Linked DNA regions of Homo sapiens: all the other regions are reported to be linked to region 1. Evidence: microRNA targets listed by miRTarBase, many of them from high-throughput screens and not tested one by one. Region 1 holds a microRNA gene; each other region holds the end of a gene's coding sequence.
The links. Region 1 holds the annotated microRNA hsa-miR-6776-5p (UCUGGGUGCAGUGGGGGUU, at 3,143-3,161, opposite strand). A microRNA usually pairs through its seed, bases 2 to 8, with sites in the 3' UTR of a target mRNA and lowers its output. Matches are read on the target gene's strand: a 7mer-m8 pairs with bases 2 to 8, a 7mer-A1 pairs with bases 2 to 7 and ends in A, and an 8mer does both.

Region 2: the mRNA of DAND5 is a reported target of hsa-miR-6776-5p. Seed matches in the 3' UTR shown: 7mer-m8 at 3,723-3,729 and 8mer at 3,401-3,408.
Region 3: miRTarBase lists TPGS1 as a target of hsa-miR-6776-5p. The part of its 3' UTR that is shown has no 7-base or 8-base seed match.
Region 4: miRTarBase lists ZNF703 as a target of hsa-miR-6776-5p. Seed matches in the 3' UTR shown: 7mer-m8 at 4,468-4,474 and 7mer-m8 at 3,731-3,737.
Region 5: miRTarBase lists RILPL1 as a target of hsa-miR-6776-5p. Seed matches in the 3' UTR shown: 7mer-A1 at 1,404-1,410.
Region 6: miRTarBase lists OR2A4 as a target of hsa-miR-6776-5p. The part of its 3' UTR that is shown has no 7-base or 8-base seed match.

What each region holds. Positions count from the first base shown.
Region 1 is chr17:2,689,754-2,694,838 of GRCh38, forward strand. MIR6776 (microRNA 6776) reads right to left here and starts at 3,166; the gene lies at 3,108-3,166. It overlaps CLUH (CLUH binding protein of NUMT mRNA), which reads right to left. Exons shown (of 26, transcript NM_001366661.1): 17 at 4,727-4,811; 18 at 4,370-4,523; 19 at 4,147-4,286; 20 at 3,027-3,107; 21 at 2,818-2,943; 22 at 2,608-2,729; 23 at 2,251-2,344; 24 at 2,008-2,142; 25 at 1,856-1,929; 26 at 1-1,024. The coding sequence ends at 841. RefSeq lists enhancers at 1,457-1,965, 1,966-2,473.
Region 2 is chr19:12,972,801-12,977,885 of GRCh38, reverse strand. DAND5 (DAN domain BMP antagonist family member 5) reads right to left here. Exons shown (of 2, transcript NM_152654.3): 2 at 3,126-4,497. The coding sequence ends at 4,252. Among named protein-coding and RNA genes, the nearest start is that of DAND5, 5.8 kb to the right of the region's middle. RefSeq lists an enhancer at 2,948-3,454.
Region 3 is chr19:518,937-523,936 of GRCh38, forward strand. TPGS1 (tubulin polyglutamylase complex subunit 1) reads left to right here. Exons shown (of 2, transcript NM_033513.3): 2 at 1-718. The coding sequence ends at 487. Among named protein-coding and RNA genes, the nearest start is that of CDC34, 10 kb to the right of the region's middle. RefSeq lists an enhancer at 1-428.
Region 4 is chr8:37,698,179-37,703,263 of GRCh38, reverse strand. ZNF703 (zinc finger protein 703) reads right to left here. Exons shown (of 2, transcript NM_025069.3): 2 at 3,245-5,085. The coding sequence ends at 4,590. Among named protein-coding and RNA genes, the nearest start is that of ZNF703, 4.9 kb to the right of the region's middle. RefSeq lists an enhancer at 3,606-4,117.
Region 5 is chr12:123,468,283-123,473,367 of GRCh38, reverse strand. It overlaps RILPL1 (Rab interacting lysosomal protein like 1), which reads left to right. Exons shown (of 7, transcript NM_178314.5): 7 at 686-3,314. The coding sequence ends at 830. It also overlaps a transcript of SNRNP35 not described here. Among named protein-coding and RNA genes, the nearest start is that of SNRNP35, 13 kb to the right of the region's middle. RefSeq lists a silencer at 4,272-4,566.
Region 6 is chr6:131,696,224-131,701,308 of GRCh38, reverse strand. It overlaps OR2A4 (olfactory receptor family 2 subfamily A member 4), which reads left to right. Exons shown (of 1, transcript NM_030908.2): 1 at 1-1,665. The coding sequence ends at 840. All of the region lies in intron 15 of ENPP3 (ectonucleotide pyrophosphatase/phosphodiesterase 3), which reads right to left. Among named protein-coding and RNA genes, the nearest start is that of OR2A4, 2.6 kb to the left of the region's middle. RefSeq lists enhancers at 1-222, 223-808.

The DNA of each region.
Region 1 (5,085 bases):
GTAACTCCCGGGATCCGTAATTGGGCCCCGCTTCCCCCAGCCTCGCCCCCGGCCCACTGTGCGTTCGGCAGCTCAGGTTAAAACTGAGGGGAGGGATACATTCAGACCGCAGGCCCCAAGGCTGCGCCCAGCTGGGTGCAGGGAGTAGGGAGCCGAGTCAGAGCCACCCACTGGGCTCTGAGGGCCCAGCAAGCCAACCCCGACCCCTCCGTTCGGGAGCAGCAGCCAGACCACGCCAGTCACAACGGCGGCTCCCGTCCCGCCCCAAACTAAAGTGCACCCCAGCCCTCCAGCCCCGCCACAGAGCTCCGGCTCCCCACCCCTCCCCACCGGGTTTTTCGGCCTAAACCCTGAACTTTCAGACAGGCTGGGCCCGGGGGTGGTGGCAGCCAAAGCAGCAGCCATCATGTCGACCATACAAATGACCTGAGAAATCCCGTCTGCGCGTCACCCACTCAGGAGTCACCCACTCAGGACTGGCTCGGGCTATGTACAGGGGAGAGGAACGGTCAACACTCACAGCCAGGGGCGCACTCGCACACGCCGGCCGGACGGCGGGGGCCGAAGCAACACCTGCCCCCCAGCCGGGAACTGATGGCCGCACACGCCATTCACGTGTCTCCAATGGGGCCTCTGCATCATCTATTCATTGAACCAGCGCAAAAACACCTTCTGCGGGGCAGGCAGGCCAGGCTCCCAGGAGGACACGGGGGTGGGGTGGGGTGAGACGTGGAGGAAGAGGGCCTTGCTTCCTCTTCCGCCCGCAGGCTCGCCCCCTTCTCCCGCAGTCGGGCTCCCTGGTGACGGGGCCGCTGGCTGGCTGTCCGTCTGGCTCCCTCTCTATCCCTGCACGCTCGGAGAAGGGTCCTTGGCAGCCGGGGGCTGGGAGCCCAGGTCTCCTGGGGCCCCCGCTGGCGCGGGCTCGGTAGCCATGGGCTCCTCGGCTCTATCCCTGTTTCTGCTGGCCTCCTGGAGCTGGTGCCGCCGCGCCACCTCGGCTTTCAGATTCTCCAGGTCTTTTTGGCTGAGGATAAGGGTGGGGATGGAGGTGGCTCTCAGAGGAGTCCTGGGGGCTCCACCCGCCTCCCGGCTTTCCTGTGGGATAAGCTCAGGCTCTGCGCTCTATTCAGTGGGGAATGTGTGTGAACAAGCGCTTCCCTCCTGAAGGCGGAAGGTCCCTGAACACGGAGAAGGTAAGGACCCCGCACCTGACCCGGCCTCGGGGCTCCCCTCGCTGCCCTCGGTGGCCTCCCTCCAGCGCAGGGGGAGGAAAGCGGAGTTGGGGGGCTGCTGCCACGCCTTGCTGACCAAATCCACTCCCCACAGGAGGCCACACTGCTTGTGGCCACCCCGGGGAGCCCGGGGCCTGCTCCTCAGCCCCCCCCCGCCGCAGGATGGGAAGCGTGGGGAGGGAATGAAGCCGCTTCTTAGGGACTGGTGGGAAAACGCCAAGATACTTTGTGTGAAGCAGAAACACCAAGGTCTTCACTCGCGGAATGCGAGGATGCTGGGGAAGATAAGCGGGGCGGGCCGGGCGCGATGGCTCACGCCTGGAATCCCAGCACTCTGAGAGGCCGAGGCGGGCGGATCGCAAGGTTAAGAGTTCGAGACCAGCCTGGTCAACGTGGTGAAACCCCATCTCTACTACAAACACAAAAATGAGCCGGGCGAGGTGGCGGACACCTGTAATCCCAGCTACTGGGGAGGCTGAGGCAGGAGAATCGCTGAACCCGGGAGGCGGAGGCTGCAGTGAGCCGGGATGGCGCCGCCGCACTCCAGCCCGGGTGACAGGGCGAGACTCCGACTCACAAAAAACCCCCAACCGGGAGACACTCGAGTGGGGCGGAGGCCTCACCTGAGAGGAATGAAGAGGATGCCGTTAATGACGTTCAGCTGCTCCAAGACGCTGGCCATGCTGGGGGCCGTGAACTGCGGGGCGGGGAAACCAGCGGTGAGCGGGGCTCCCGCGCTCGCCGGGCCGGAGGGGCCGCTCCGCCCCGGACTCACCTTGAGGGGCGGGATGTTGGCGCTGGAGCCGTTGCGGTAGATCTCGTTCATGGTGCGCTGCAGGGCCACGGCCTGCTGGGTCAGGCACTTGAGGTACTCGGAGCTTTCCTTGGTCTTCTCATGGTCCTCGCCCAGCTGCGGGGAGGCGGGAAGGGATCAGGCCCCCCCGTGCCCCCGCGGCCCCGCCCCCGCCCCGCCACGCCCCCGCCCCGCCCCCGCCCCCGCCACGCCCCCGCCGCGCACCTGCGTCTTGTAGATGGTGTAACCCTCCTTCTCGTGCTGCAGGGCCGACCGGAACTCAGCTTTGCTCTCGTAGACTCGGGCGACAAGGTGGTGGCTGCCGGGAGGCGCGGCGCGGGGCGAGGGAAGGGCATAAGTGGGCTGGGTGTGGGGGCCTGACTCGGGGGCCCGGGGTCTCCCGTAGATCCCTCCCTGGAAGCCACCGAGGGGAACAGCAAGTCCAGGGCTCAGGGAAGAGGGGGAGGTCGAGAGAAATTTTCTCGGGTGGAGGAAGACAGGAGCACTGGGTCTCTTCCCCGCCCCCGCCGGCTGCCCCGCAGGCCTCCGCCGGCCTTGGCGTTTGGACGGGCGGCCCCTCACCTGAGGGCCACCTTGAGGGCCTTGGGCCCGTGGTACTTGGTGCTGACGGCCAGCGCGTTCTCCAGGAAGCGCAGCGACAGGTCGTACTCCATCACCCCGTGCAGCACCAGCCCGATGTTGTTCTGGGGGCAGGCGGTGGGGGGCCCTGGTCAGCTCCCGGTCCCCTGGGATGGAGCTGGGTCCCTGCCGCCCCCCCGCCCCAGCACTCACGTCCAGCAGCGCCATCTCGGGGTGGTCTTCCCCGAACACCAGCAGCATGAGGTAGCGGGCGCGGTACAGCAGGCTCAGGGCGGTGGACAGCTGGCTGCTGGCGAAGCAGTACAGGGCCAGGTGCATCTGCGGGCGGGGCGGAGACAGGTCAGGGTGGCCGCGGACCCAGCCCCTCGCATCCCCCGGCGCGGGCGGCACTCGCGACTCACGTATTCCTGGATGGTGTTGGGGTGCTCGGTGCCCATCACCCGCTCGCTCATCAGCACCGCCTTCTGCTGGTTACTCAGGGCCTGGGGAGAGACAGTGGTGGTTGCCGCGGCGTGGGAACCCCCACTGCACCCAGAGCCCGCCTGGCCCCGGCCCAGCAGCCCACGGTGCCGCTCTGCAGGCTCCTGTCCCCTCCGGCTGCGCCCAGCACAGTGCAGCAGGGGGGAGGGGGATCAGCAGCAGCTGCTGCCACACCTTGAAGGGCAGGTCACGCTCCACAGAGAGCTCCACACACCCATGTCTTACACCCAACAAAATCTCCACAAACACCCAAATACAAACCTAAAACTACTAAAAATGTTACAAAAAAAAAAAAAAAGCCTGAGCAGGGGTGGGTCCCTTGAGGTCAGGAGTTTGAGACCATCCTGGCCAACATGATGAAACCCCATCTCTACTAAAAATACAAAAATTAGCTGGGTGTGCTGGCTCACGCCTGTAATCCCAGCTACTCGGGAGGCTGAGGTGGGAGAATCGCTTGAGCCCAGGAGGTTGAGGCTGCAGGGAGTCGATATCACGCCACTACACTCCAGCCTGGGTGACAAAGCAAGACCCTGTCTCAGAAACAAACAAACAAACAAACAACCCACCCATTTATAAACAGAAGAAAAAACAGTCCCTTTGCAGGGAGTAGGGATCCTAAGACATGCTAACCCTGAAACAGCCCTGGCCAGGCAGGGCACCCAGAACCCCACCACAGCCTCCACCAGCCCCGGCCAGGCAGGGCACCCAGAACCCCACAGCCTGCACTGGGCACAGAGGACGTGGGAGCTCGGTGGCATGCTTCCTGCCCACTCACGGAGTCTCAGGAGGCGTCCTTGCTGACGCCCTGTGGGGGGGTCCCCTGCCATCGCCTCCCAGAACTGACCTCACCGCAGCACAGGGTGCTCCTGAGCTCTCCCGCTCGGGACACAGTTACAGAGGGGTGGAGCCAGGGGTGGCCTGGGCAGAACCAGCGACTTCCTGGGGTCTCCCTGGACTCCACCCACTCCTCCGTCAGGGGCCCCCTCACTCCCCATCCCCCAACACGAGGCCAGGCCTTTGCTGCCACAGCCCAGAGGGTACCTCTGCGTAGTCGCCCATGATGTAGTGGAGGCGGGCGAGGAGGCGCAGGCAGGCGCAGGTCTCCACGTGCATGGCTCCGTAGACGTTGTTAAACAGGTTCAGGGCCTCATTGATGAGCTCACAGCCCTCCTTCAGGAAGCCTGCAGGGCACCCCCAGGGGTGGCAAGGTCAGGACGGGCCATGGGGAACCCCCACCTCCACCCAGCCCCACCTGGCCACACACCCTGCTGCACTTTGGCCTGCCCGCTCTGGAAGAAATGGAAGGCATCCGAGGCCTTGGGGTTGACGTGCTTGACCACGGGGAAGATGTTGAGCACGTCCTCCTCGGTGAACGCGGGCTTGTGGCGACTGTCGAAGCTGTACTCCTTCAGCAGGACCTGGGGGGCAGCCCCCCCACCACAGGAAGCCTCAGGCCCAGGTTCAGCGGGTTGGCACCTCCCAACCCACCAACGCTTGCGCACAGACGGCTACCGTGAAAAAGCCACTTCCCCTGTGGCCCTGGCCAGGAGTGGGAGCCTGCAGCAGGGACGCAGCGGGGACACAGCGGGGACACAGCGGGGATGCTGTGAGCCATGCCCACCTGGATCCCTGTTTTCAGCGAGATCTCCCGCAGGAGCGTTATCTTCTGCAGGCCGTAGGTCTCCACAGCCTGGTCCACGGTCTCACTGAGGAGGGAGCAGGGGGCCTGAGCAGCCCAAGCACCGCCGGGCCCCCCCAACACCGCCCCACCCAGCTCCCCAACGCTGTCCAGCCCGGGCCCCCAACACTGCCCCACCCGGCCCCCGGGAGCCTCCCGGCTGCCCTCACCCTCCAGCACCCAGTGATCTCCACAGCTGCTCCCTCTTCTCTCTGACTCCCTGGCCTATGACCACAGGCCTTAGACGCCATCTGGGAGCAGGTGGTGGCCGCCTCATCTGCCCAATCCCACCCACCCCACCG
Region 2 (5,085 bases), not on the chromosome of region 1:
AGAACTAAGAGCCGGTAATCCAGATCCCAGGACCCAGGATCAGCATCTAGAGTCCAATCATACCGGGCTGGGCACGGTGGCTCATGCCTGTAATCCCAGCACTTTGGGAGGCCAAGGCAGGCAGATCACTTGAGGTCAGGGGTTCGAGACCAGCCTGACCAACATGGCGAAACCCCGTCTCTACTAAAAATATAAAAATTAGCTGGGTGTGGTAGTGGGCACCTGTAATCCCAGCTACTCAGGAGGCTGAGGCAGGAGAATCGCTTGAACCTGGGAGGCGGAGCTTGCAGTGAGCTGAGATTGCGCCACTGCCCTCCAGCCTGGGCAACAGAGTGAGACTCCATCTCAAAAAAAAAAAAAAAAGATTCCAATCATACCAAGATCTATACTCCAGATCCACGAACTCAGCCAGGCGTGGTGGCTCACAGCTATAATCTCAGCATTTTGGGAGGCCAAGGCGTGAGGATCACTTGATGCCAGGAGTTTGGGACACGATAGGCAACATAGCAAGACTTTATCTCTACAAAAAACTTAAAAATTAGCTGGGTGTAGTGGCACATGTCTGAGGTTGCAGTGAACTATGATGGTGCCACTGAAACCATACTCCGGGATTCAGATTCCAAAAATCTAGATCCTATTGCTCAAAACTAGAATCCACCAGACCCAGAATCTAGCTCCAAGAATTTAGAATCCAAAGGCTACCTTACAAAATTGAGAGCTTTCTTTCTTTTTTTTTTTTTTTTTTGAGACAAGGTCTGGCTCTATCACCCAGGCTGGAAAGCAGTGGCACAACCTTGGCTCACTGCAACCTCTGCCTCCCAGGCTCAAGCCATTCTCCCACCTCAGCCTCCTGAGTAGCTGGGGTTCCAGGTACACACCACCATGCCCAGCTAATTTTTTTTTTTTTTTTTTTTGAGATGGAGTCTTGCTTTGTCGCCCAGCCTGGAGTGCAGTGTCGCCATCTTGGCTCACTGCAACCTCCGCCTCCTGGGTTCAAGCGATTCTCCTGTCTCAGCCTCCCAAGTAGCTGGGATTACAGGCACGCGCCACCACGCCTGGCTAATTTTTATATTTTTAGTAGAGACGGGGTTTCGCCATGTTGGCCAGGCTGGTCTTGAACACCTGATCTCAGGTCATCCACCCGCCTCAGCCTCCCAAAGTACTGAGATTACAGGCATGAGTCACCACGCCCGGCGCCCAGCTAATTTTTAATATATTTTTGTGGAGACATAGTTCTGCCATTTTGGCCAGGCTGGTTGCGAACTTGTGAGCTCAATGAATCCACCTGCCTTGGCCTCCCAAAGTGCTGGGATTACAGGCGTGAGACTCCTCACCCAGCCAAAATCCAGATTCTTAAGCCGTCCTCAGAGCCCTCCAGATCACAGCCACGTAGCAGGAGTTGGCGAAGATAGAAACAAAGGGATAGCTGAGGAGCTCAGCAGTACTGCACATGGCCTCTCCCAAAGCTGATACCCCTCCCAACCTACCCCTGTGCATTTACACACACACACACACACACACACACACCCCATCAGGTTGGGTGTGGTGGCTCACGCCTATAATCCCAGCACTTTGGAAGGCCAAACCAGAAGGATGGCTTGAGCCCAGGAGTTCGAGACCAGCCTGGGCAACACAGTGAGACCCTGTCTCTACAAAAAAATAAACAAAATTAGCTGGGCGTGGTGTCATGAGCCTGTAGCCCCAGCTACTCGGGAGGCTGAGGAGGGAGGATCACTTGAGCCCAGGAGTTTGAGGCTGCAGGGATCGGGCCATGATCACTCCAGCCTGGGTGACAGGGCGAGACCCTGACTCAAATAAGAATAATAATTAATACTACTAATAAAAGAAAAAGACACACCATCATCCAAAGAGACACCCTCCTCCATACGTTCTTGTCCCAGCATGCAGATGCACGAACATCTGTGCACCCACAAAATCTCAGAGCTCCGCCCCCAGCCAGCCCACCAAACTCCTAGACACACAGCCACCATGGAGACACACACAAACCTATGATTTCCAGCCCTGCACCCGGACACACTTTAAGAATTGTGGAGACTGGGATGGGTGTGCACACACACACACATACACACACAGACATAGTCCCCTAAGAAGCTCCACGCCTGGCAGCCACGCAGCCCCTGGGAAGGGTACCCCAGGGATGGGGTTCACCGTGCAACCCCGTGCCCACCCCAGCCGTCCCCCGCCTGGCCGGCTGGCGGGCTTTAATACAGATGCCAAACTCATAATTGTAACTGAGGGTGACAGGGTCACCTTGAGCCCCAGATGCTCGTGCGGTGACAGATGGCGTTGGCAAACCTGATTAGCGGCCCCCGTGCCAGCGCCTGTGGCACCTGCATCCCCTGCCCCTCCCCCGCTCCCCCAGCACTCATTACCCACCCATTACTGGGCCTGGGGGGGCGGGGCAGGGGCCGGCTGGCACTGCCCGGGAGGGGACAGGGACTCTGGGGGCTCCCCTGGCACCAAGGTTCCCAGCTGGCTCCCCTGGCTGGCAGGAGGTGGGCACAGCAGAGGGAGGGAAGGCAAATGCCTCATGCCCACCAGAGGGGGGCTTGCCCATGGTGCCAGGGCTGAGCTGCCCACTCGGACACTGCCTGGGGTTTGGCACAGAACTCTGGAGGGAACAGGGATGGGGCAGCCCCCCCAGAGCCCTTCATGACCCTCCCCTCCAGGGCCCTTCGAGCAAGGGGCCTTGGGAGCTGCCTGCCTGTCCCGTTCCCATCTCTCTGTGAGGCCTGTGAGGTCAGGGGTCTCAGGCTCCCACGCCCCACTGGCCCATCTGTTTCCTCGGGTCCCCTCCTGCTCCCCTCACCTGAGGCCTTCCTTCCTGAGGCAGGAAGAGGGCTGAGAAGGGCCTGGCCGGCTCCCCGCCCCACGCTCCGGGGGGCATTTGGAGGCAACACTGACAACGCCACATGTCCCTGCGTCTGTGCCAGACAGGCCCATCTGCCAGGGCCCTGGTTCCAGCCGCCCAAAGCCAGGCCGCCCTCGCCCGCTGAAGACCCTGAGCCCCAGCTGGGGAGGGAGCACTCAGATGCCCACACCCTGTCATGGGGCCACCCACTCCCAGGGAACCCCAGTTGGAGGAACAAACAGATGCACATATAGACAGCTGGACTCAGCCAACCTTTATGGTTTCTGTGGAATGCCATGCCAGGCGTGGGGCTCTGTGGAGACTCAGGTGGGGGGTCTGAGAGGGACACAGCACCACTATCAAGGCAAGAGGCAGCTGGGAACACGAGGGTCCTGCCTCTGTCTCAAGGACCCCAGGATTTCCCCCAGCAGCTGTCTGCCTGCCTGCTTTGGTTTGCGTTTTTGGTTTGGGTTTTTTTTTTTTTCTTTTTTGGTGTCCCTAGGCTGAGGTCATCACTGTGTCTCTCGGTCTGGGTGGGGCCATCTACCCTCCCTGCAACTGGGAGTGTCTTTGACCTCATTCTATAAGAGACAGTTCAGCCTAATGATTAACAGTGGATTTGATCCCAGCACTTTGGGAGGCCGAGGTGGGCAGATCACCTGAGGCCAGGAGTTTGAGACCAGCCAGGCTAATATGGTGAAACTCTGTCTCTACTAAAAATACAAAAATTAGCTGGGCATGGTGGCGGGTGCCTGTAGTCCCAGCTACTCAGGAGGCTGAGGCAGGAGAACTGCTTGAGCCTGGCAAGTGGAAGTTACAGTGAGCCAAGATCGCGCCATTGCACTCCAGCCTGGGTGACAGAGAGAGACTCTGTCCTTAAAAAAAAAAAATAATAAGGCCAAGGCAGGCAGATCACGAGGTCAGGAGATAGAGACCATCCTGGCTAACACGGTGAAACCCTGTCTTTACTAAAAATACAAAAAATTAGCCGGGCGTGTTGGCGGGTGCCTGTAGTCCCAGCTACTCGGGAGGCTGAGACAGGAGAATGGCATAAACCCGGGAGGTGGAGCTTGCAGTGAGCTGAGATTGCGCCACTGCACTCCAGCCTGGGCGACAGAGCGAGACTCCATCTCAAAAAAAAAAAAAAAAAGTGAGTTGTCAATCATTGTGTGCTGTGACTATCAGTGGTGCAACTCCAGGACGGGCACTGTGTCTACTGTCTGGGGAGCAGGGTGAGGACTCTGGGGACCTGTCTGCCTAACCCTGCATCCCTGGTCTCTTGACCCAGAGTACATCATCCAGGTCCACGTCTTTCTTGGTCCATCTCCCCTCATTTCTCCAAGGTGCGTGTCTCCGTGCACCCATCCACGATGCTCAGTTCATGCTTTTGGGCTGCAGTGACACCCCTCGATCAGCATGGTGGATATCTTCACCCGTCGACGGGAGGCTGAGCTGCCAGTGAGACACCACAGGACCACGGGTGCCCAACGCTTGCGAGCAGGCATACAGCTGTTGCACAGGACTAGTGGGGTGGGGTCCGAGCCAGGGATGTAGAGAGAGGAGCAATGACCAAAGCACAGATGATTTCGGAGGCGTATGGCTGAGCAGCCGGGCCGGGAGAACACCTGGGGCCGGAGGCATGGAGACGGTCAGGGTGGCGGAGTTTGGGGCCAGAGTGGCGAGGATAATCACCTGTCCACTTCCACCCCACCTTGACAGGCATGGATGCTGCAGCCAGGCTGCCTGGGTTCAAATCCTGACTCTGCTGTCTCTTGGCTGAGACATGGGGCAAATTACTTAGCCTCTCTGAGCTTTTGTTTCCTCACCTGGAAAATCATTGAAATTCAACAAGGGCCGGGCGCGGTGGCTCACGCCTGTAATCCCAGCACTTTGGGAGGCCAAGGCGGGCGGATCACGAGGTCAGCAGATCGAGACCATCCTGGCCAACACGGTGAAACCCCGTCTCTACTAAAAATACAAAAAATGAGCCGGGCGTGGTGGTGGGCGCCTGTAGTCCCAGCTACTCGGGAGACTGAGGCAGAAGAATGGTGTGAACCCAGGAGGCGGAGCTTGTAGTGAGCCGAGATAGCGCCACTGCACTCCAGCCTGGGGACAGAGCGAGACTCCGTCTCAAAAAAAAAAAAAAAAAAAAGAAAAGAAATTCAACAAAGACAGCCAGGTGTGGTGGCTCAAGCCTGTAATCCCAGCATTTT
Region 3 (5,000 bases), not on the chromosome of region 1:
CGGCGGGCGCAGGAAGAGGCCGGGGCTGGACGGGCGCACCTACAGCGAGCTGCTCAGGCGCATCTGCCGGGACGGCCAAGCCCCCGAGGAGGTGGTGGCGCCGCTGCTGCGCAAGGTGCAGTGCCGTGACCACGAGGCGGTGCCGCTGAGCGTCTTCCGCGCGGGCACACTCACCTGCTTCGTGCTGCTGGAGTTCGTGGCGCGCGCCGGCGCGCTCTTCCAGCTGCTGGAGGACTCGGCCGCCGCCGTGGCCGACCGCCGCGTGGGCCAGGCCGTGCTGGACACCCTGGAGGGCGCGCTGCAGGCCAGCGACGCCGCCGCGCCCGCGCGCTTCCTGGAGGCCGGCTCGCGCTTGGGGCCCGACAGCCTGGCGCTGGCGCTGGACCGCGCCGTCGGGGGGCGGCGGCCCAGCGCGCCCATGACCCGCGAGGAGTTTCTGGAGAGGGCCGCCGCGCTCTTCATCGCGAAGGTCAAGCCGGTGGGCTGAGGCCCGTGGGCCGCGCGGATCCGGGATCTGCGCTGGGGGGTCCCCGCGTGCGGGGCGCGCGGAGCCTTCCCTTCGCCCTGGTGAGGCCCTGCCATAACCAGGCGCCCAGCCCTGCGGAGGAGGCCGGGGCTCCCAGGAAGCGGACGCCCGGTCCCCACACAGCGCCGCGGCCGCCCCTCCACCCCCGCGGGAGCCCCTGCCCCACGCTAATAAAATGTGTTGCGAGGCTGACGCTGGTGTGTATGCGAGCGCCCGCCTCCCAGCCCCGGTGCCCGCAGAAGACGCTTTTCCCCAGCAGGTCACCCACGGCCCCGGAACCGCGGCGACTGGAGGCTGGATTCGAGGCCGGAAACGCCGGGACCCCTGGACCCGGCCTGGTGGGAGCAGCGGAGGGGGACGCCCCACGGGGCCCTGCGGAGCCTGAAGCCGGAGAGCAGGCGGCTCTTCTGGAACGCAGGGCCCGGGCCCTCCAGCCCCGCCCGGCCCAGGTATCCTCCCTGAGCCTCAGTCTCCCCAGATGTCAAATGAAGAGGCCAGCTGGGCAGATGGTAGTGACATTGGTGAGACAACAGCCCTAACACTTCCCAGGAACTGAAGTGCCTCATGTGATTGATTCCCAGGCCCAGGCAGCGGAGGTTACACCCTCAGCAAGGGCTCAGCTGGGATCTGCGCCCGGCCTGCTCCAGAACGCAGCCCACTCGCCACCGGTGGGGAGGGTCGTCCGGTATCCCCCAGTGCCCACCACCACCAACCAGAATCACTTCTCAGACTGCAAGAGCGAATCCAGCCGGGCGTGGTGGCTCACACCTGTAACCCCAGCACTTTGGGAGGCTAAGGCGGCGGATCACTTGAGGTCAGGAGTTCAAGATCAGCCTGACCAACATGGTGAAACCCTGTCTCTACTAAAAATACGAAAAAAAAAAAAAGCTGGGCTGTGGTGGCAGGCGCCTGTAATCCCAGCTACTCAGGAGGCTGAGGCAGGAGAATAACTTGAACCCAGGAGGCAGAAGTGGCAGTGAGCCGAGATTGAGCCACTGCACTCCAATCTGTGCGACAGAGTGAGACCCTGTCTCAAAAACAAAACAACAACAACAAAAAAAAAACAGGCCAGACGCAGTGGCCCACGCCTGTCATCCCAGCACTTTGGGAGGCAGAGGCAGGTGGATAACGAGGTCAGGAGATGGAGACCATCCTGGCTAACATGGTGAAACCTTGTCTCTACTAAAAATACAAAAAATGAGCCGGGCGTGGTGGCGGGCACCTGTAGTCCCAGCTACTCTGGAGGCTGAGGCAGGAGAATGGCGTGCACCGAGGAGGCGGAGCTTGCAGTGAGCCGAGATCGCGCCACTGCACTCCAGCCTGGGTGACAGAGCGAGACTCCGTCTCAAAAAAATAAAAAAATAAAAAGTGAATCCAGAACTCCAGCTCCAGTTGCTGGCAGGTGACTTCACTCCCTTGGCCTCAGTGTCTCCTGTTAAATGGGAGTCCCCACAGCCTGTTCTGGTGGAGGGGGTCCAATCGGACATAGAGAACACTCAAGCCTTGTTTCTCCCCTGCTGTCACCGCCACATCACAGTCATCCACACAGAAAAGACTTCTGTGACCACATGTGGGAGCGTTTTTTCCCACACACCAACCAGCAGACGCCAGCCGGGTGTCCTCTTAATTCAGCTCTGACGCCTTCTACCCAGAGATAGTGTCAGATCCCACAGGCCGAGGGCTCAGTCCCCGAGCCTCTCCCTCTTCAGACACCAGTTGCGAATCTGGGCTTCCAGGACTTCGGTCTGGCCGGGTTCAAGTTGGGGTTCCCAGCACCCCTTTGGGTTCAATTAATTTGCTGGAGCAGCTCACTGAACTCGGAAACACTTGTGTTTCCTGGTTTACTATAAAGGATGTGGCAAAGATAGCAGAAGAAGGGACCACAGGTGAGGTACGTGTAGGGTGGGGATTGGAGTGCCATGAGGATGCACAGGGCACCATCTCAGAGCTTCCAGGCATCTCCACATGTTCAGCTCTTGGAAGCTCCCCAGAACCCAGTTCTCTAGGGTTTCGTGGTTTTTTGTTTGTTTGTTCATTTTTGAGACGGAGTCTTGCTCTGCCACCCAGGCTGGAGTGCAGTGGCGCAATCTCGGCTCACTGCAACCTCCCCCTCCTGAGTTCAAGCGATTCTTCTGGCTCAGCCTCCTGAGTACCTGGGATTACAGGCGCCCACCACCACACCTGGCTAACTTTTGTATTTTTAGTAGAGACGGGGTTTCACCACGTTGGCCAGGCTGGTCTCAAGCTCCTGACCTCAGGTGATCCACCCACCTCAGCCTCCCAAAGTGCTGGGATTACAGGCGTGAGCCACCACACGCGGCCTAGGGATTTTATGGAAGCTTCATGATGTCAGCATTACTTCCCCAGGGGTATAGGGCAGGACCCTCTTTGGGGAGGGTCCCAAGACCCGTAATCGAAAAGGTAAGATTAGAGCTCTGCAGCCCAGAGGAGGGCGGGAGATTATTTCCTGAGGCCTAACGAGCTCAGCAGTGCAGCAAAAGACTGCAACTAGGGCTTCAGGAGCTATGATCCGGGAACTGAGGAAGAAAACTACTCTCTATTCTAACACCACACACGGGAACAGAATTTTATTTTATTTTAATTTTTTGAGACAGAGTCTCGCTCTATCACCCAGGCTGGAGTCCAGTGGCGTGATCTCGGCTTACTGCAAGCTCCGCCTCCTGGGTTCACACCATTCGCCATTCTCCTGCCTCAGCATCCCGAGTAGCTGGGACTACAGGTGCCCACCACCACGCCCAGCTAATTTTTTGCATTTTTAGTAGAGACGGGGTTTCACCGTGTTAGCCAGTATGGTCACGATCTCCTGACCTCATGATCCGCCTGCCTCGGCCTCCCAAAGTGGTGGGATGACAGGCGTGAGCCACCGTGCCTGGCCTTCTTTTTTTTTTTAGACGGAGTCTCGCTCTGTCACCCAAGCTCGAGTGCAGTGGCTCAATCTCGTCTCACTGCAACATCTGCCTCCCAGGTTCAAATAATTCTCCTGTCTCAGCCTCCTGAGTAGCTGGGATCACAGGCACGTGCCACCGTGCCTGGCTAATTTTTGTATTTTTAGTAGAGATGGGGTTTCACCATGTTGGTCAGGCTGGTCTTGAACTCCTGACCTTGTAATCCACACACCTTAGCCTCCCAAAGTGCTGAGATTACAGGCATGAGCCACCGTGTCTGGCCGGGAACAGAATTTTTAAATTTTTACAAGTTCCACGATGGCAGAGACCACTCCTGTCTCCCAGTTTCCCAGCACTGAGCTGGGCTTAGGATAGGTGATCAATGAACCAATGAATCAATACAGGAATGAATCCTGGCAAATCGCCTGTTTCCCAAAAAAAGCCACAATAATGGTTCCACTCCCCGCCGCAGAGGCAGATGGAGAGGTAGAATCCGCATCCCCCTGCGGGACTGGAGCTCCTTCCAAGGCAGGGCCCCTGCGGGACGCTCACCCTCTGGACTGGGCACCAGCTGCGATGCCTGCGCTGACGGCAGCTCCTGCTGTGCAGACTCAGGAGCTGAATAAATGACAGTTGTGGTTCTAGGCTACCAAATTTGGGGTGATTCATTACGCAGCAATGAGTAACAAAGATTAATGAAAGGTGCCCACTCCATCCACAGGTGCTGTTAGGCTACCACAAACGCCCCTTACAGGTGTGAGCCTTACAGGTCATACGCCAGAGCATTTCAGTGAGCACGGGCCGGGGGCTCAGCAGCATTTCCGGTGAGCACGGGCCGGGGGCTCAGCATTTCCGGTGAGCACGGGCCGAGGGCTCAGCAGCAATTCCGGTGAGCACGGGCCGGGGGCTCAGCATTTCAGTGAGCACGGGCCGGGGGCTCGGCATTTCCAGTGAGCACGGGCCGGGTGCTCCGCAGCATTTCCGGTGAGCACGGGCCGGGGGCTCAGCAGCATTTCCGGTGAGCACGGGCCGGGGGCTCAGCATTTCCGGTGAGCACGGGCCGGGGGCTCAGCAGCATTTCCGGTGAGCACGGGCCGGGGGCTCAGCAGCATTTCCGGTGAGCACGGGCCGGGGGCTCAGCATTTCCAGTGAGCACGGGCCGGGGGCTCCGCAGCATTTCCGGTGAGCACGGGCCGGGGGCTCAGCGGCATTTCCGGTGAGCACGGGCCGGGGGCTCAGCGGCATTTCCGGTGAGCACGGGCCGGGGGCTCAGCGGCATTTCCGGTGAGCACGGGCTGGGGGCTGAGCAACAGGACACAAAACACAGGAGAGCCGGGCGCGGTGGCTCACGCCTGTCATCCCAGCACTTTGGGAGGCCGAGGCGGGCAGATCATGAGGTCAGGAGATCGAGACCATCCTGGCTAACACGGTGAAACCCCGTCTCTACCAAAAATACAAAAATTTAGCCGGGCGCGGTGGCGGGCGCCTGTAGTCCCAGCTACTCGGGAGGCTGAGGCAGGAGAATGGCGTGAACCCGGGAGGCAGAGCTTGCAGTGAGCCGAGATCGC
Region 4 (5,085 bases), not on the chromosome of region 1:
CGGCTCCCGGGCAGCCATGTGCAAAGTTTCCCCCAAACCTCGACACCCACCTGCATTATGTGAATACAAAGGCTTCATGTTGGGTTTTATGAGCTTTGGCAGATTTAACTGGGGTTGGGGAGGCAGGAGGCTCTCTGGCAGGGAGGTAAGAAGATGGGTTGATGTGATTTGGCTTTGTTTCCTTTAGGTGACTTTGGCTTTCAGGAGAAAGTTTGAAACCCGGCACATTCCTCTTTGTAAATGATGTAACACATTAATGCACAGCACATTATGAAAATGGTAATTCAAACCCATAGTGCTCCAAATTAAACCATACATTATCGGATGCACTCAACCATCTATTTTGCAAAAAGACAGGATGAATGAAATCAAATCAAACAGAAAACTGGAGTGCAGCTTCCCCTACAGAATGATTAATAAAGTGTAGAGCCACAGGATTATTGTAAGATGAATTCCACCGTAACCCAGACATACATCAGGAGGGAGTTAGTTCATATACCCAGAGATACAATCACAGTATGCTAGGTAGGGCAGAGCAATTATGGCTGCAGAAAGATGGGGAAGGGCCCCACACCTCCCGCTTGGGCTATGAATTTCTTAGGAGATGGGTTTGCGGGTGTACAGTTGGGAAGTTAAAAACTTAACACCACATGATTTTGTTTGAGTCCAGCCTATATCCAAGGGTGAGTCTTTCCCCTCTTTCTCCTCCTCCCTTCCTCCCATGGCTGCCACAAGGCCACAAAAATAACCAGGCAAGAGGTGTGAAAATAGGACCTGGAGCCAGGAACGTCCAGTGTCTCAAGTTCCAGCCCTGTGGCTTCCACCCTTCCTGGTGCTTTGGGAACACCGGCCCCATTTCTGGCGCCTGGGACAGATTAGGAGAAAGAGGCGGAGGAGGGCTGGGAAGAGGAGGTGGAGAAATGGAAGGTGGAGGTGACCCTCAAAGAAAGGGTTGCTGGAGGCATTAATTATTCAAATAAGCACTGGATAGGGGAGCACCACCTCCATTAAGATGGCAACTTTGTTTAATGGGAATTAAGCTATTGAAAGTAACAAACTTTTCATCAGCTTATTAAAACTGTCACATTTCTTAGGTGGGGAGAGCCATCTTTTCAGAGTAGAACTGGACACTCCAGACTATGTGACCTGCCCTTTGCGGCCACAATGGTAGTTGGGGGCAGCCTATTCCCACCAGGCCCAACAGTGAACTTCCCAGTCACCAAAGGCCACCAATACATTTTATGGGGGAAACTCTGTAGTCTAAGGAGTTCTCTAACTGCATTCTTACACCTAAGGTATAAGCCAAACACCTTTTAGAACAGTTTCTTTTGGTATAGGGAATTTGCTGGTTGTGCGTCCCTTCCTTCCTTCCTCCCAACAAGAGGAGCCCTTTGGTTTGTAGATAGGGAGGTCTGAAGACTTGAAGTGTAAGAAAGCAAAGTTTAAGTCGCCCTACAGAGGGAGCAATTTCCATCATTTTTAGCAGGCATTAAAAAACATAGTGAGGGGGTGGGTCTCTGAAGGAAAGAGGGGCCTTCAGAGGAAGGGAAGATGGCAAAGAAATAATAAACAACGAACAAAACAACAGAAAAAGAAACAATAAAGCCACGAGTCGCTACATTTAGTTCGTTTAAAGATTCGGGCCAGATTGAACCCCGAGAAATTGGATAATGCTGGTTTCCCAGGAAGACCCTGATCTGGTCTCAGGGCACTTTCTCTAATTCGGGTTTCCCAGTGCCCAGTGGTAGGAGCACCCCAGGATCCCTTTCCTTTTGCTAGATCCAAAGATTTGGTAAAACACACACACACACACACACACACACACACACACACACACACACACAAACACACACACACACACACACACACACACACACACACACGCCCTGTCTGTCGTCGAGTTTGTGGACAACCAAAAACAGCGCAGAGAAACCGGCCCCATCCTACGCACTGCACTTGACCTCGGGCCACAGACGTTTCAAAAGCATGCACCTTTCAGAGCACGAACTCCCAAGTCGCATTCCTTACAGAAAAAGCAAACAGCACAACCCCAACGACAGATCCCACGAGGAGCGCGGCCAGGAAGCGGCGCAGGAGGCGGTTTTGCAGAGCGTCCCATTGGCCCCGCGCGCCCAGGCCCTTGCGCAGGGAGCAAGCGCCCCCGGCCCGATGGAGCGGGGTCCTGGCGTCGGGCAGCCGAAGTCTGAGCCGCCGTGCCTTGGCGGGCGCAGCCCGCTCTCGCTGCTGGGGGTAGGGCAGCGAGTCTGCATTGGGCTGGACGTGGCTGGGCCTCCCAGAGCTGTCCCTTCTCTCCTCCCGCCTTGGACACTCGCGCAGGGCCTGTCTATGGTACAGGGGGCAGGCTCCCTGGCCAACACGTCAGTAAACAGCACCCGCCCTCTCTTGCCCGAGGATGCAGAGGCCAGTGTCAGTCGTGCGAGCTCAAGAAAATGGACGAGCCAGGCCCAGGGGCCCGGCTCCTCCGGACTGAGAATGGCTTCAAGGTCTTGAGTCATCGTCGCATCTTCTCAGCAAAACCCAAACCCTGTTTCGAAGTTTCCGGGGCGCAGATGACCCAGGTCGACAACCCAGCGATGGCTGAGGGGAGCCCCCAAGCCTTGAGAAGCAACCCTCTCAGCAGGTGCCTTTACCCTCTGGTCAGGAGAGAGGAAACGCCCCACAAAAACAGCAGGTAGGAATCCTTCGCGTTCAGAAGATGAGAAGAACCAAGGTGCCGTCGGGGCTAGTGCGGGCTGCGCCTTCTCTCCGAGGCCTGTCGCTCGTCTTCCTGCCACCAGGTGGCGCCAAAGGCGTTTCGTCTCTGCCCGCCAGGCCGCCGGGCTCCAGGACTGCGCTGCTGGAGTCTCTGCCGGAGCCCTTGGTGCTGGGGTCCTGGGGTCCCTTCTTAGCCCCCTTAGCACGTCGCATCTGGGCCCAGAGGAAAATCCACTTTTACACACACCCTCCACCCTGGCCCCAGGAAATGTCAAGGCCTTTGAAGTGAGGCTGGGAGCTACATAACCAACTGGGGAAAAAAATTAAAAGGTGGTTTTATGTTATTTGTAATGCGTTGGCAGAAGTTTTGTTTTTTCTCCCCCATTTCTTGAGGAAAGGCATTAAACTCGTCCTTGAACGGAAATCACAGAAGGAAACCATAAGGCATTTTAAACAAGAATAAAAGAAGGGCATCTGCTTAGGTGTCTGGAAGAGGGTGGGCGAGGCAAGAGAGAAAAACACCACGGTGTGAATATAGCCAAGTATTCCATTTATTAACAAAATAAGTCTTACCAAGGGAGAGCTCTGTTCGTCCCAAACAGGCCCCGCAGCCCCCGCGCTGCCGCATCAGACCAGAAGGAGGGAGGAGTGGGGAGAAGACCCCAGTCGCTGGGGGGTCCACTCTGGGGGCTCTGCCGGGCCAGGCCTAGGAGAGGGCGGGGGCTGCTGTGATCCGAGAGCTCCCTGACGCCCCAACCTTCCCCGAACGCAGCTAACGAGCTCGTGACATCCGCTGACATCGCCACCGGTCTGCTTTGGAGGGATCTAGCGAGAGTCACCTACCCCACCCCTACTGCCAGGGGAGGGGTCGTTGCCCCCACGAGGGAGAGAAAAACAAGGACTATAATGCACTTCGCAAAATGTAAGGGGCCGGCTTCACGCCAGCGGGGCCTTCTGGGACTTTGAATTCAACCAGGTGAGCGCTCCAGGTGCCCCGACAGGCGCACTGTAGCCACTGGGTGTTAGGGGCGGGAGTCTGGAAGGTGACGGTAGACGGCCACTTGGGCCCTTCTGGGGGCGAGCCTACTGGTGGGGTCAGGGCTCTCCGTGCTCAGAGCAAGGTAGAGGAGCAAGGCCCTACTTTTGGGGGGCAGGGTCCAGACCAAGGACCCTATGCGCGGAGGGTGGCGGGGGAGGAGTCCCGGAGCAGTGTACCAGGTCAATAGAGCTCCAGGGCCCCTGCCACCCAGGTGGCCCCCTCCACCCCCAAAATGAGTTACAAAAAAAACCTCCTCTCTGTTACTTGTACAACAAAGGAAAAAACAAAACAAAACAAAACAAAAAACAAAAACAGAACCGCAAATGGAAGGAAACAAGAGGGAATGAAGGGGGAAGAGGGAAAAAGAGAAGGCGGAAACGTAGTTTTAAGTTAAGACTCATGCAAGAAACTCCCCAGGAAGGGAAAACAAAACGTCTAGAAGAACCCAAAGACCCCAACTCTCCCTCAAACCAAACCAATCAAAACCAAAAAAAGAGGAAAAGGAATAAAAAATGTAAAACTTATATCTAAGAAAAAATAACAGAAAGGAACAGGGGCGGGGATCATGTCGTTATTTGTGGGATTAATATTATTATTTGGGAGAACACAGACTTTTTGCATACCATTGACTCATGTGGGCCGTTAATGCACTTATATTCCCAGCTTGTAAGCTAACATTATAGTAAATAAATACACAGTCCGGTGGGGAAGGGCTGGGTGGGGAATCCCGGCAGGGTCAAGCAGTAGTGGAGGTTGCAGCGGCGACGGCAGGTGGGGAGGGAGGAGGAGGGAGAGGGAGGAGGGTGAGGGGGCTGGGGTGGAGGAAGAGCTGTAGTTACTGGTATCCCAGCGCCGAGGCTGAAGCTAGTCTCTGTCCATACAGCGCGTATGGCGAATAGTAGGGTCCGGCTGTGGGGAGGGACGGCACGGCCAGGCCCCCCGCTGTGGATAAGTGGCTCTTGCCATAGGGGTGGTACCGGCTTAGGCCCAAAGTGTGTGGATTCCGCAAGGACAGCGACCCGGGGCTGCCGGGGGCGGCGGGCGGGGGGAGGTGCAGATGGCAGGAGGCGGCGGCGGCGGCGGCGGCGGCGGCGCTGCCCAGGCCCGAGGCCCCGGGGTAGGCGGCCAGAAGTTTCTCGGCTCCCGGCAGGGCCGTGTGGGTCCGTAGGTGGCTGAGCAGCTCCTCCGAGGTGGCGAAGCGCTTGTCGCACGGCCCACTGGCTGCCACCCAGTTGCAGCTGTGCGGCAGCGGTTCGTTCTGCAGCATGAAGCCGTAGGTGTAGAGCGGGTGGCCGGGGAGCGCGGCCTGGGCGGCGCTGGACGAGAGCGCG
Region 5 (5,085 bases), not on the chromosome of region 1:
AATTTTTGTATTTTTAGTAGAGACGGGGTTTCACCACGTTGGCCAGGCTGGTCTCGAACTCCTGACCTCAAGTGATCTGCCTGCCTCGACCTCCCAAAGTGCTGGGGTTACAGGCGTGACCCATCGCGCTCAGCCCATAGTATATGTTTTATTGTTCATTTTTCTTAAGTACTTCCTTTAGCCTCATCTAAGCAGTAATGTCCATGAAATCTGGGCCACAGTTTCCTGACTGACATTAAACAAATACAGAACTATTTAAATTAGAAATACTCATTCGTTTACAACAGAATCCTCTTATATTCCACACGGTTTTCAAGTATTCCTTTCTCTGCGTCATTAGGGTAATTAAAGAAACCCAAGATTTGTTTCAGCAGCTTTTGATTTCCACTGGTAACGGGATAAATCCTCCATAGCGGCTAACGTGGAAGACACCTCACACATCACATCAGCATGCATGCCTTGCCCATACCGCGTGACCTCCAAGGTACCGTGTCCAAATGACACGCAGAATACCCTGCTGCTTTCTTGGAATAACTTTGACCTGCACCCCCAACTTTGTCTTTCACACCTTGAATTGATTTGCTCCCTTCTAAGTTTGCTGCTATATGTCTCCGGCATTGCAAAAAACGTGACTTGCACAGCAAAGGGTCAGCTCTCATTTCTGTGTTTGCTTTCCCTTCCAAAGGTTTAGCTTCTTCTCCCGAGATAAGAAGCGCCTGGCCAACACACAGAGAAACGTGCACATCCAGGAGTCCTTTGGACAGTGGGCAAACACCCACCGCGATGACGGTTACACAGAGCAAGGACAGGAAGCCCTGCAGCATCTGTGACCTTGGCCCATCTCCACCCTCCAACCTGGACTGCCCGCCACCAGCGCCTGCAACCGAACTGCAGCCCAGGGGTCATTGCTGCCTCAAGCCTCTCGGTGCAGATGCACCCTGAAAACTGACCCCTCAAACAGACTGTCTGATTTGAGGATGGACATTGAAAAACTGACGCCAAACTCTAAAGAAATGTTTATTTATACCCAGGGCTATCACTGTTTCTAATAGATGACTCTGATCCCGTAGGATATATATTTAATAATCCCACAAACGGAGGCCAGACTTCTGCGTTAACTTCAGTAACACAAGCTTCTTTAAGCCAAATACATCACTTGCCACTATCATTGCTGTTTGACTTGCTTTGTATAAAATGCTATGTGTAGAGGTTTTATTATCACAGGTGACATAGTTCAGCAGGAGGCATGGAAGGGCTAGATCTTCATTAGTTACATTCATGAAATTGTGATGGTAACGTATTATACAGAATGTATCCATCAGGCAGACAAGGGGTCTGAAGTCACAGGCTCAGTAGCCCAACTCAGACACAAAGCCACAGACAATATGGATGATGGTCCTCTTACCCAGAAACTGGAGACAACTTTGCAGGCACCCTGGCTGCGTTCCTGATAATGCCTAGAGCATGTAGCAATGTTCAAGGCAGGTGCCTTGGAATCTGCTGTGAGTTATGCAGTACTAACCAAACAAAGTTGCTAAGGATGAGATGTTGCAACATTTCTTGTGTGCACTTTTTTTTCCTGACATCTTTTTTTCCTTTTAGGATTCATTAAGTCATATACTTAGTCCCCTGCAAAGAAGAAGACAGATGTCCCAGAGCAGACTGAAAGCGGGGCGTGGGATCCTAGGCAATGCAGGAGGGCAGGTGGGGGAGCTGTAGCAGAACAAGGGTGCTAGGTGGGAAGCTGGCTTGGGGACCACACGTCTGGCTGACTCACAGGGCTATAGCAGCAGACAGAGAGCCAGATGCTCTACTGCAACTGGTGAGTTGGAGGCTTGCCCACATAACACTGTCTTTCTCTCCACCCGCCAAGCATCCAGGGCACAGGGCTGGTTGCTCACAGATTGAGCGAGGTAGCACCTCCTACCAGCACTCAAGTTTATCAGGGCCGCGTTCTAAACATTCTACTGAAGTTTGCTAAGAAACCATTAGGTGAGGCTGGGCACAGTGGCTCACGCCTGCTATCCCAGCACTTTGGGAGGCCGAGGCAGGTGGGTCACTTGAGGTCCGGAGTTCGAGACCAGCTTGGCCAACACGGTGAAACCCCATCTCTACAAAAATACAAAAAAATTAGCCAGGCGAGGTGGTGCATGCCTATAATCCCAGCTGCTCAGGAGGCCGAGACAGGAGAATTCCTTGAACCTAGGAGGCAGAGGTTGCAGTGAGCCTAGATCGTGCCATTGCACTCCAGCCTGGGCGACAGAGTGAGACTTCATCTAAAAAAAAAAAAAAAAAGAAAGAAAGAAACCATCAGGTGAATTTGCAGAATCTAGAATGGACTCTGCTTCCAGATTGCCGAAAAAAAGAAATGATCAGACAGGGTAATTATTGCTGCGTTAGAGCAGTGTTTCTCAAACCTGAGTGCCCATTAGAATTATTAGAATTTATTCTCAAAGAGTATAGAAGCAGGTATACTGATGAATTTCTCTCCCACCCCTGGCCACCTTTGTTGCCCTTCCAACAGGTAACCAAAATTGCCAGTTTCTTGGTTATCTTTCCTAAACACTAAATGTCTCTCTTTTTTTTGAGATAGTCTTGCTCTATTGCCCAAGCCAAAGTATAGTGGCACCATCTCTGCTCACTGCAACTTCCGCCTCTTGAGTTCAAGCAATTCTCATGCCTGAGCCTCCCAAGTAGCTGGGACTACATGTGTGTGCCACCATACCTGACTAATTTTTGTATTTTTAGTAAAGACGGGGTTTCACCATGTTGGCCAGGCTGGTCTCGAGGTCTCGAACTCCTGACCTCAAGTGATTCACCTGCCTTGGCCTCTCAAAGTGCTGGGATTACAGGTGTGAGCCACTGTGGCTGGCCTTTTTTTTTTTTTTTTTTTTGGACACAGGGTCTCACTCTGTCACCTAGGCTGGAGTACAGTGGCACTATCATAGCTCATTGCAGCTATGAACCCCTGGGCTCAAGCAATCCTCCCACCTCAGCCTCCCAAGTAGCTGGTACTACTGATGTGCACCACCATGCCCAGCTAATTATTTTTTGTAGAGACCAGGTCTTACTTTGTTGCCTAAGCTGGTCTCAAACTCCTGGGCTCAAGTGATCCTCACACCCCAGCCTCCCAAAGTGCTGGGAATTCAGGTGTGAGCCACCGTGCCTGGCCAAATGTCACTTTTTTGATAAGTCAGCAGATCCAGCTCTTGAGCACATCAGAGGCTAGATAATCGGGACAGAAAGGAAAAATCAATCCATCAGAAAGTTTATACATGCAATTATGTAAAATAAAATCAAGAACAAAAAGCATATATATATGTACATGTGTGTATATATTCCTTCTTTCCTTTTTTCTTAAGGGACAAGGTCTTACTATGTCACCAAGGCTGGTCCCAAACTCCTGGCCTCAAGCAATCCTCCTGCCTCAGCCTCCCGAGTAGATGGGACTATAGACATGAACCACCATACCTGGCCCTCCTTTTTTTTTTTATTTAAATGGCAGCATAATATATTCATGCTGTTCTGTGCTTTTCTTTTTTCCCCTTGAAATATCCTAGAGAGGGCCAAGGTGCAGTGGGTCACACCTATAATCCCCATATTTTGGGAGGTCAAGTAGGGAGGATCACTTGAGCCCAGGAGTTTAAGACAAACCTAGGTGACATAGCAATAACCCACCTCTACAAAAAATTAATTAAAATAAAAAAATAGGTGGGTGTGGTGGTGTACACCTATGATCTCAGCTACTTGGGAGGCTAAGGCAGGAGGATCCCTTGAGCCCAGTTCAAGGCTGCAGTGAGCTGTGATCACACCACTGCACTCCAGCCTGGGGGACAGAGTGAGACCCTGCCTCAAAAAAGAAAAAAAAATGTATAGCAATAACTCCATATGAGTACATAAGACAGCGGCTCTCATGGCCAGGAGCAGTGGTTCATACCTGTAATCCCAGCACTTTGGGAGGCTGAGGCAGGCAGATCATGAGGTCAGGAGTTTGAGACCAGCCTGGCCAACATAGAGAAATCCCATCTCTACTAAAAATACAAAAATTAGCTGGGCATGGGGGCATGCGCCTGTTGTCCCAGCTACTCAGGAGGCTGAGGCAGGAGAATCGCTTGAACCCGGGAGGCAGAGTTTGCAGTGAGCGGAGATCGCACCACTGCACTCCAGCCTGGGCGACAGAGCGAGACTCTGTCTCAAAAAAAAAAAGAAAAGACAGTGGCTCTCAACCACGGATGACTGAGCCCCCCAGGGGACATTTGGCAGTCTGGAGACATTTTTGATTGTCACAACTGGAGGGGGAGAGAGGATACTGTCATCTATGGGTAGACACCAAGGAAGGTGCTAATGAACATCCTACAATGCCCTGGTCTACCATATGGGGGTGATATTTATTAATGTTTATCTAGGCCCCACTGATGGACAGGTAGCTTCCTTCCAATCCTTTACTCTCAAAAAGTGTTGCACACTGTCACACACACAAAAGTCTACAGAATAAACTAGAAGCAGAATTGCTAGATCAAAGAGTATTTGCTTCTGTCATGTTCATGGAGACTGCCAAAGTCCCTACCATGGAGGCTGTACCATTGTTTTTCTTTCAAAGTCACCACAGCCCATAGAACACTAAGCCCAAATGTACAGGGTTGGAGTCTGAGTGTGCAAGTTTTTTGTTTTTTGTTTTGAGACAGGGTCTTACTCTGTCACCCAGGTTGGAGTGCAGTGGCACAATCTCAGCTCACTGCAACCTCTGCTTCCCGGGCTCGAGCAATTCTCCAGCCTCAGCCTCCCAAGTAGGTGGGACTACAGGCAAGCAAAACCAACACCCGGCTAATTTTTGTGTTTTTCGTAAAGAGAAGTTTTCACCACGTTGCCCAGACTGGTCTCGAACTGCTGAGCTCCAAGCCATCCACCTGTCATGGCCTCCCAAAGTGCTGAGATTACAGCCGTGAGCCATCACGCCCAGCCTCAGTGTGCATGTTTTCTTTTTTTCTTTTCTTTTTTTTTTTTTTTTTGAGACAGAGTCTCGCTCTGTCGCCCAGGCTGGAGTGCAGTGGTCCGGTCTTGGCTCACTGCAACCTCCGCCTCCTG
Region 6 (5,085 bases), not on the chromosome of region 1:
CTGTTCTACGTCTTCACCCTGCTGGGGAACGGGACCATACTGGGGCTCATCTCACTGGACTCCAGACTGCACGCCCCCATGTACTTCTTCCTCTCACACCTGGCGGTCGTCGACATCGCCTACGCCTGCAACACGGTGCCCCGGATGCTGGTGAACCTCCTGCATCCAGCCAAGCCCATCTCCTTTGCGGGCCGCATGATGCAGACCTTTCTGTTTTCCACTTTTGCTGTCACAGAATGTCTCCTCCTGGTGGTGATGTCCTATGATCTGTACGTGGCCATCTGCCACCCCCTCCGATATTTGGCCATCATGACCTGGAGAGTCTGCATCACCCTCGCGGTGACTTCCTGGACCACTGGAGTCCTTTTATCCTTGATTCATCTTGTGTTACTTCTACCTTTACCCTTCTGTAGGCCCCAGAAAATTTATCACTTTTTTTGTGAAATCTTGGCTGTTCTCAAACTTGCCTGTGCAGATACCCACATCAATGAGAACATGGTCTTGGCCGGAGCAATTTCTGGGCTGGTGGGACCCTTGTCCACAATTGTAGTTTCATATATGTGCATCCTCTGTGCTATCCTTCAGATCCAATCAAGGGAAGTTCAGAGGAAAGCCTTCCGCACCTGCTTCTCCCACCTCTGTGTGATTGGACTCGTTTATGGCACAGCCATTATCATGTATGTTGGACCCAGATATGGGAACCCCAAGGAGCAGAAGAAATATCTCCTGCTGTTTCACAGCCTCTTTAATCCCATGCTCAATCCCCTTATCTGTAGTCTTAGGAACTCAGAAGTGAAGAATACTTTGAAGAGAGTGCTGGGAGTAGAAAGGGCTTTATGAAAAGGATTATGGCATTGTGACTGACAGTGACCTAGGAAGTTACATCATTGAGCGGTTCTTAACCCATCTCTGCACTGGTGGGACCTCTGCCCTCAATGGACATGAGAATTATCTGAGACATTTATTTAAAATGGAGCTATCTCCTGCCCTACCTTTAAATGACTGATTTCAGCAGATGTGGGATGAAATTCTAGAAATTGATCTCTTCAAGTTGTGCTGCAGCCACTCCACACCAGGACAATACCCCTTACAATATCCTCATTAGCTTTTGATCCAGTCCCATACCTCCCATAATGTTTTCCTCAAAACACTGGTCCCTTCAGAGGACTTTAAAAATAAGTTCTATAGTCAAATAAGTTTGAGACTTACTTCACATCAGATGCCTCTGTCTAGGGATCACAATTCATATTAGCATAGTGAATGCTGTAAATATTTCTCTAGGAAAGAATAATTCTATACCAGCTTTAAGCCAGTGTTTTCTAAACTTATGTGAGCACATAAAATTTCCTTTGTAATACTTAGTAACAGTTTCCTGGAACAGGAGATCTTGATATTAATTGACTCATTGTGAATACTTCCTACAGCCCCCTTCTAGGGCAGAATGATTTCTTTTTTCCTTGCAAAGTGAGCCTCTAAAGAGATGTAGTTCTGAGCATTATGCCTCGATCAGTCTGTAAAAATCCGGGTTCTGTTTGGATACAGACCGTGAGGGACCCTGTCTCTACTGTTCAATGGTAGATCATCTAAAGAAAATAAATGCAATCCTGTCCTTCATCATGGATCGGCATTCCTGCTATAGAAGCTTCAGGAGATGACCTCATTCAACCTCACAATCTTCTAAATTTGAGATTTTTAAGAAATATGATTCAGTATACATCTTCCTGTGTTTGCCGCTGAATGAAATCAATCTAATTTTTCTAATTCAGGGTTTTCAAGATAAACCCAGATTTCTCAAGAAAGAAAAATCTAGAAAGATTTCAAAATCCACCACCTACACACTTAAAAGTTGTAGCAGCTTCTTATGCCATGGGAAACATGTCATTTTGAGATGATGTTTTTTCTAGGTTTAAGTTTGGTCTTAAACATTTATATTTAATTTCTCATTGTCTTAGTTCAAAGAATTTACTTTTATATTTTAAAATAACTTTTTACACAATAACTCAGTGTCATATCATGTTAGATATAAAACTATGTCCTAAAACTATTTTATCCTTTTTTTTTTTTTTTTTTTTTGAGACAGTCTTGCTCTATAGCCCAGGCTGGAGTGCAGTGGTGCAATCTCGGCTCACCGCAACCTCTGCCTCCTGGGTTGAAACAATTCTCCTGCCTCAGCCTCCTAAGTAGCTGGGACTACAGGCATGTGCCACCACGCATAGCTAATTTTCAGTAGAGACAGGGTTTGTATTTTTAGTAGAGACAGGGTTTCACCGTGTTGGCCAGGCTGGTCTCAAACTCCTGACCTCAGTTGATTCACCTGCCTCGGCCTCCCAAAGTGCTAGGATTACAGGCATGAGCCATCCTGCCCAGCCTATTTTATACTGCTTATACTATTTATATAGTATAAAAATAGTTTTAAAACTATTTTATGGTATACTTTTTATAAAGTAAAAAGTATACTGTAGTATAATTTTTATACTATATACCATATTATATTTTTATAAAGTTGTTTCCATTTGCTACTAACTTTTTCTTTTGTATGTCAGTTTCCTGATTTCTACATTTCCTGCAGGTCACCTGGAACATCAAAAGAAAAAGAAAAGCTGTAATATTGATGGGTGGCCTACTGTGCAACAAGATTTTCATATAGTGTTTTTGGTGTTATATGGATGTTTCTTCTCGCAGTGGATGTGTAGAGTCAGAGCACAGATGGGCATACTCTCAAACCTTAATAACTGTGCCACATTGCCCTTTGAGTTTATTCTAAACCTTAGCAAGTCAGAGATCACACTGTATGGAACTAACTTCTATCTAAATTGCATGATTGATTGATAGGAGATTTCCAAATAACATTTGGACTGCCTTACATCCAGTAAAAGAACTCAGCAAAATACAAATAAATATGATAATATCTTAGACAGCAAATCTTCTCATCCCACAAGAGGCAGGAAACTGCTAGAGGAAGCTGCCTTGGAGAGGATTCTTTCCTCCCCTCCCGAAAGGAGCTGAACTCAAAATCTCTCCATTTCACAATAGACATTGGAGAACATTTTCAACAGTGGATTTGCACCGGTGTTTTGTGTCCTAGAAAAACGTTCCCTTCAGGTAGGTTCTAATAAGCCCCTTGAACAATTTCCCAAATTGATCATCCTGCCTTCAGAACTTCTGAATCTTCCCTTCAAAACACATACACACGCACACACACACACCCACACACATACCCCTAATCTTATTTAACACTGCTGGAAATAAAAATCTATGTTCTAATGAGAACAAACATCAGACAGAATATGATAAAAGCAAGACTATCCTAGAAACTGTGGCTTCTAAGTTAACCATAATACCTTCCCGGTGATGCACTATATAGTTTCACCATCCCCATGGCTTCATGGGCTCCCTTGGGGCTGAATGGGTCACTACATACCTTTCTAACAGGCTTCCCTGTTTCACACTAGACTAGGGGTCCCCAACCCCTGGGCCATGGACCCACACCTGTCTGTGGCCTGTTAGGAACCAGGCCACACAACAGGAGGTGAGTGGTGGGTCAGTAAGCATTACCACCTGAGCTCCGCCTCCTGTCAGATCAGCAGTGGCATTAGATTCTCATAGGAGGGTGAATCCTATTGTGAACTGCCCATGCAAGGAATATAAGTTGTATGCTCCTTACGAAAATCTAACGCCTGATGACCAATCACTGTCTCCCATCGCCCCCAGATAGGACCATCTAGTTGCAGGAAAACAAGCTCAGGGCTCCCACTGATTCTACAGTATAACGAGTTGTATAATTATTTCATTATCTATTACAGTGTAATAATAACTGAAATAAAGTGCACAATAAACGTCATGCGCTTGAATCATTCTGAAACCACCCCCCCTTCCCGCCCCCACCCTGGAAAAACTGTCTTCTATGAAACCGGTCCCTGGTGCCAAAAGGGTTGGGGACCACTGCGCTAGACCATCCTCGTCCATGTAGCATCTTGAAGGACCTCTCCAAAAGCAAATATCCCTATATTCACCTCAAGCCACCTGTATCTACCAACAGCCTACTTTCTTCAAGATCAAAGTCACACTCCTTAGTCATTTCAGACAAGGTCCTTTGTACACATGATGGCTTCATACACTCAGTGCTCCAGCAATGCAGAACTACTTGCAACTGCAGGAATCTAGTTCTTCCATCTGGAAACCTGCCTCCTTCTCTTTACCCTTCCTTGCCCTAGAGCTACTGCTGGCTTTAAAAAGGTGCTCAGGCCGGCACGGTGGCTCACGCCTGTAATCCCGGCACTGGGAGACCAAGGAGGGCGGATCATGAGGTCAGGAGATTGAGACCATCCTGGCTAACATGGTGAAACCTCGTCTCTACTAGAAATACAAAAAATTAGCTGGGTGTGGTGGTGGGTGCCTGTAGTCCCAGCTACTCAGGAGGCTGAGGCAGGAGAATGGCATGAACCTGGGAGGCGGAGCTTGCAATGAGCCGAGATCGCGCCACTGCACTCCAGCCTGGGCGACAGAGCGAGACTCCATTTCAAAAAAAAAAAAAAAAAAGGTGCTCTGGGTAGATCATTGAGAGAAAAAAAGGTGCCTTTGAAGGACGCGGCCTGGCAGTGTTCAAGGCTTGGCAAGCAGATGGCACTTTTGGCAAAAACAACAACAACAACAACCACAAAAAACGAATCCCCTTCCTCCTGCCAATGCAGCCCCTGTTAAGGCTTGGTGAGCTGAGCAAAGATTCCATTTCCACTCCCACTCACCTTGTTGGCAGGATGCCACTGTACAACCGACAGACTGCACAGGGCAGACCTGCTGTATGGCAACACGTATCCTATCCCATCATAAGTCTTCCAAACCCCGATCAGCAACCACCCCTACCAGGAAGCATTCTCTGATGCTCCTTGACATTCACACCTGGGTCTGTAATTTTTGCTTCCTTGAGCCTTGTACGTGGTTCTAGTGCAATAGTTATCCCATCTGATTATAGCTGTTATCTTCCTACCTGGGCAAAGATCCTTTGGTCAGGTACTTTGTTGGTTATCTCTAGTTCTTAAAAAGGTGCCTGAAATTTATTTGTCAGTTGCTGATCCAAAATTAAAA